Regions from separate parts of the Homo sapiens genome. Here region 1 is linked to region 2. Evidence: fine-mapped expression QTL. A gene starts in region 2. The other region holds a variant in brackets. All regions are shown on one strand. Distances are from middle to middle. Region 1 overlaps LINC02250 (long intergenic non-protein coding RNA 2250). Region 2 holds the start of UBE3A (ubiquitin protein ligase E3A).

Evidence for each region. PIP is the estimated chance that this variant, and not a neighbour inherited with it, causes the effect.
Region 1: its variant is the best candidate, but not a certain one, in a credible set for the expression of UBE3A in thyroid (GTEx, PIP 0.65).

What each region holds. Positions count from the first base shown.
Region 1 is chr15:25,476,763-25,479,669 of GRCh38, forward strand. All of the region lies in intron 4 of LINC02250 (long intergenic non-protein coding RNA 2250), which reads right to left. Among named protein-coding and RNA genes, the nearest start is that of UBE3A, 39 kb to the left of the region's middle. The variant C/T (reference allele first, on the strand shown) is at 1,701.
Region 2 is chr15:25,437,224-25,440,130 of GRCh38, forward strand. It overlaps UBE3A (ubiquitin protein ligase E3A), which reads right to left and starts at 1,801. Exons shown (of 13, transcript NM_130839.5): 1 at 1,266-1,801. RefSeq lists enhancers at 917-1,862, 1,863-2,808 and silencers at 946-1,365, 1,726-2,065.

The DNA of each region.
Region 1 (2,907 bases), 40 kb after region 2:
GATGTTAATTTTTCCATATTTTGTTATTCAACAGAAAATCATTAATGATATGCAAAAACTAGGAGGAAGTGTTTAAAAAATAATGGGAAACTATTAATTCTCACTTTCCATAGCTCCTTTCAGCTTCTGAAACTAAGAACATTAATTTTCACTCAAGCCTGTCCAAGTCCTAAGAAAATCGTAACCAATCCTAAGCCCATATCAATAGGCTCTTCACCAGTTGGTTAAATCTGAATCAGTCTGTAGCCAAGAGTCTGTTGTGTGTATCCCAAGCAGGGCCCAGACAGAGGAAGAGAGAAATCCTGAGTCCATGCACCTGCCAAGTTTCAGTTTTCTTCTGTTCCAGTCTTTCTGGCATCCATTTCAGGTGCCGCTGACCTAGGGGGAAGGGCTACTGTAACCCACTTGAGAGGATGGTCAGCCATCACTCAAATTAACACACTTAGAAGGGCCCAGGAGAATCAGGTTTGTCTGGCGTTCAGCATAACTGTTAGAAAGTGCTAAGAAGCAGAGGGGTGTTTTTTGGTGTTCCTGCAGGCCTGGGAGAGTGGGCTCTTTGCCCTCTGGGGTGAGCTTTTCTCTGCTCTCACCTACACTGACAGATCTGCCATTTCTTGTACTACATCTGCCCTCATTGTCTTCCAGTCTCAAAGGATTGAGTGTCCTTCCCCTGTTGGAAGCTGGCCTACTCAGACTACCATGGTGGCACCAAGCTTTTACACTAAGGACGTTGTGAAAAATGAGAATTTCTGGGCCTTTCCCCCTTTGTGTTCTGATGCTGGGTGTTGCCCAGGGATTTTTGTCTTTAGCCCCCCCAGGAGAACTTCCCATAGGATTTGGTGGGCCTTCCTTGAGAAATACTCCCTGCTCCATGGAGAGTAACCATCCTCTCCATATTCATTTATTTTTATTGAGTCATTCCCTACTCTGTAAGTATGCTCACTTCCCCACTGAAAACAGAATCCTCTCTCAACACCTCTTCTCTGCATTCCTTTATAGTTGACTTCTCCCGAAGAAACAAACCCCATGCTTGTTGCCTGTTTCCCCACCTTTCTCCTCAGTTCTCTGCAGTCCAGTGTTTGTCCCCAGTACTCCACATTTACTCTTATTATCCTCCAAACAAACAAAACTCACCAGTCAGCTCCAATCCAGACCCTCCAACAAAGCCTGCAGAGCCCCGTTCCTGCCCCCTGGTCACGTGCAGCCCTGTCCTGTTCCTTGCTGTCTGCTGCCTTAGGGTCCCGGCTTCCGTATAGCTTCCTGATGTGCAGAGCCCTTTTCTGCCTCAGGCCTTTGCACTGCAGCTGTCTGGAGCTTATGCCCCCCACCGCAGGCTTCCTCCTCACAAGGGACTATGTCATGTTCTTGGTGTGACAGCATCCATATCAGAAAGAGGCCTTGCCTGTGAATGTGATTTAAAGCAGCTATCATTCTCTCTCTTATAGCTCCTGTTATTTTCCTTCAGAGTGCATTTCCTAATTTATATATGTTTTAACAAATTTATTGATACTTCCCCTCACTAGATTCTGAGTTTTGAAAGGCTAGTGGCCTTACTCGTGTAGTTCATCACTGTACCAAACCCAGTTCCTGAAACATGGTAGATGCTTTACTTGGAGACATAGTGAACCAATGATGCTGTTTTGATGGAGGCCAACTAATGACTCCCTAATTTCCACCTTCTCCACCTGAATGCAGAGCTG[C/T]CTGGGTGAGAGACCATGGCAAGCGATGACTCTGCAGAAAATCTGTGACTTAATATTTGCCCTGAGTGTTCTCAGTTCTCTGACAAACAAAGCCAGACACCCGGCACTTCACATCACTGTGGCTGATCCCACTGGTAGAAAGGCCTTGGGGAATGTTGTGTTTTAATGATTTCACTGAAAATAAAACTAAAAGCCTAGTTTCTTCCTTTGTACAGAAAAATGGTACTGCTGATGTTAACCTTGTGATTACAGGATAATTTCAATAAATTGCTAGAGACTTTTTGTTTTTTTTTTTGTCTTTGCAGAGTGAATGAAATACAGAGAGAACTACATCCTCCACTTCCTGTGTAGCATTGAGGTATTCAGATCCCCCTTAGGAAAGAAGGTTTCAGGAGCTTTGCCTCTCAGCATCCCTGTACACACAGCCTGGTTCCTGAGCACAGTGCCTGTCGTGTTCCCATCTAAGCCTCATTTCCTTTCCTTCTTTAGGGACATGAATCTGCTAGCAATAAAAATATCTAACTGGGTAATAATGTATGCAGGGTACACTGTTAGTGTTCCTAACTGCTGTTAAATGGTGATGGGCGTTAACTGGCATTTTGAATACAGCCCTTACAAAGCCTTTTTTTTTTTTTTTTTCCCCACTAAAGCTGGTGCCTGCGCAGGTGTCTAAAAAACATGCACAACCCCACAATGGAAACTGCAACAAGTTCCTAGTCCCTTCAAGAAGCTTTCTCAGCACATGAGACACTCTGAATGAGAGTCTGGACATTTGGTTGTTTTATTATTTAAGAATGTCTTAGAATGTAATAGAAATGAAATATAAATAAGAAATATAATTATGGCAAAGAAAGAAAGTAAATGACCACTATTGCTAAATGGCAAGGCTAGAAAACCCATGAGAGTCCCTTGTCCAGCATTAGTTTAGTAGAGATGGATACAAAATAAATAAGAAAAATCACTATAATACAGTTGGTTTCCTATGTGCTTCCTGGGATGTGCTTTACACACATCAAGCCCCTGTGATGCTGAGCAGAAACAGGGGCTTCAGGTTCACACAGGTCAGCTCTTGAGTACGTCTTTGCTACTCCTTGCAATTTCCATTATCACTGCCAACTTATCTGGGTCCTTCATACAGTTCATGTGAATTATTGGTAGTGAATAGCTCTTAGTGCTAGGACTTAGTAGCTGGTCAAATGAGGAGGGG
Region 2 (2,907 bases):
AGCTATTTCCACTATACACACCAAGTTACAACTTTCTTATCTCTCCTAAATTCTAAATTTTACATGATTTACCAAATCACTTCTTAAGTAAGAGTACTTATTGATCAGAAGTGTGAGACAAACACCTTATCCCACTTGTCCAATTTATTCAACAAGATTGATTGGGTACCTTTGTGTCTCTGACAGGTAACTTTCAACAGTTGTATTTCTTAAACTTTAGGTCGTCTCCCAAAAAAAACTGTAATAATTTGCTGCTTCTCTCAATATTGCAGGCAGTAAAATGATCCAAAATTACGGGTCATATCCACATTTCTTCATGATTGAGGTTAACTGTGCACTGTAAACCCCATATGCTATTAGTTTACATTTTCAACAGCACCCTCGCCACTTAATAATCTCAAACAGATTTTGGACTGTTACTAATTTAGCATATCCATAAAAAGTCATTTAAAAAATGTAGACGCTAAATTCTCTTTCAAGGTTGCCAAGCTTCACCAGTGTCTGTATTAAAATTATTTCTAAAATTTTACGGACTAAGGCATTTGGTACATTCAATTCTACCTTTACCAACAAAAGCCTTTACCACCAAGATGAGGAAAGCATCCTTTTCATTTTCTACACTGAAAAGGGGGGGGAAAAAAGGCCAACTGCTTGCATACAGGTCTGCATATAACACAGCAGTCTCTGGCAAAGCCAATAACTCACGTTCAACTTCAGAAATCCTGGTGGCCGGTAACACAGAGTAACCTGTGCGCACAACCCTTGGGCTTGACATACCACTTCATCCGCCCTCCCTTCCCATCAATCCACCCCCAAAACCCCAACCCACCAAGCACACGGCTAAATATGTCTTCCCCAAGAGAGCCAAAAACCTTGAAAACGCCGAGAAAGGGCTCCCCTTTGAAGGAAAGGGCCTGCCCTTCCCTGTCTGGGGCCCCGGCTGGCTCGAAGAGCCTGGCTCCTAGGAGGCCCAAATCTCGACGCCTCGCACGTCCCGCCCCGCCCCGGGCCCGCTCGCGTCCCCTCGGGCGACAAAACCCTCCCGCCGTCGCTCAGCCAGGACTGACAGTTACGGCTGCAGCAGCCGCGGCCACCAGGGGCCTACTTCTGGCACCAGCCCCTTCGGACCACGCGCCCCCAAACACTCGCCTCGGCGGCGGGGGGCGGGGAAGGGGGGTGTCGACCTCGCCACAGCGGGCCCCGAAGGCCGGCCGAGTGACGGAGGGGAGCCAGCGCCGCCTGGCGCAGGCCGCGGCAACACTGACCTGTCGTCGCCCCCGCGCCTGGGCTGCGGCGGCCGCCTCACTGGTCGTAGTCGCCCTCGCCCGCCGCCTCCGCCCGCCACCGCCTCGTTCTCTTTCGCTGCCGCCACCGCCGGGGCTCATGCGGGACCCGCGCTTCCTTATCCGGAAAACGAGGCCGGGAAAGGGAGCGCCGGGGCCGCCGAAATCCCGGCGTTCGTCGCCAGCCGCCGCTGCCTGTCCACACCGGGGGGCTGAGGGGCCCTCCTGCCAGGGGCTACAGGCCGCGAGCTATTCCGAGGAGGAGCCGAAGGAGGCGCCGCCGCCCGCAGCCGAGCGCGCCGGGTCGGCAGAGGTGAAGCGTAAGTAGGCGGCGGATGGCGGGCGCCCGCGCTGGCGGATGGCTACGCGGCGGAGGGGTGCGCGAGCGAGCGAAGCCTGGTGTGTCGGGTCCTGGCGAAGGGAAAAGGCCCCGTCGTCTCCTGTAGTCACCCCGAGCCCAGCGCCACCATCTTGGGAGACACACGGATCTCGCGGCCGCGGCGCAAGACGGGAGGACTGGCTGGGCGGGCCGAGTATCCCGGCAGGCAGCGCGCGCCGCCCGGCCGGGCGAGGGCTCCAGGCCGGGACGCGGGGACGTGGGGCGGGGCCAAGACGCGCGGGAGGGCGCCGCGCTCCGCCCCTCCTTCCTTCGCCGGCCCCGCCTCCCTCCCGCTTGCCGTCGCCGCCGGCGCACGGGCCATTGGGAAGAGGAGGTGGCCTGCGGCCCCTCGGAGTCCCACCAGGCTCGGTCGCCATCTTGCGACTGGACAGAAAGGGTAATCCCTCTTTTTAGTTTCTGCTGTCTGTGACCCGAAAGAATAAACCTGGGACTTCCGGAAGCCCTCTGGGCACCCCCCCCCCCAGGAGGGTTGCAGAGCCCCTTGGTGTACCCAGCAGAGGAACGCCTCAGACTTTGTTGGGAAACGAATGGCTCTGAAAGTTAGCTGAAGCCGCTGGAATAGCCCCCCAGCCCCGAGGCGGGGCAGGTGCCTGCCGTTATTGGCTTTTCGACCCCAACCCTTTTCTATCTGGAGCTGCCTTTGTAGATGTTGCAGGGGTGCCCCGAGAGTGCAGGCCAGATTTTAGAGGACCAAGGTCATCTACTTAGGCCTCTTGCCAACACAGGATGTGTCAACTAGTTTACCAGAGACGAAGGTAAAGTCCCGTCTCCTGCAGTTGTTGACGTTCAGTAGGTCGTCGGTTAAGAAAAGTGGCTCCCTGGTTGACCCCAGCTGGATAGAGGCTAATTTTGATCCATATGACAGCTGAACGTAGTTAAAGCCATTAAAATTAAATCCATTTAAAGTCATATTTGGTACCAGGGTCACCATTTTAAAAGGTGTGTGTGTGTATGTGTGTGTGTGTGTGTGTGTGTGTGTATAGCTTTACAACACTTGCTAGCAAAGCCAAAAGAGTATCACTAACAATTCATAGTGTTACAACTTGCAACTTTGTTGATAAGCCCTTGAAGTACTAGATGAGTACCCATGTCTAGTATTCAGATTTTTTATATCAACAGTCGTACATAGCAGTGTATCTTTTTTAAATTTATTTTTATTTTTAAACTTAGAAATGGTGTCTTGCTATGTTAGGCCCAGGCTGGTCTCGAGCTCCTGGCCTCAAG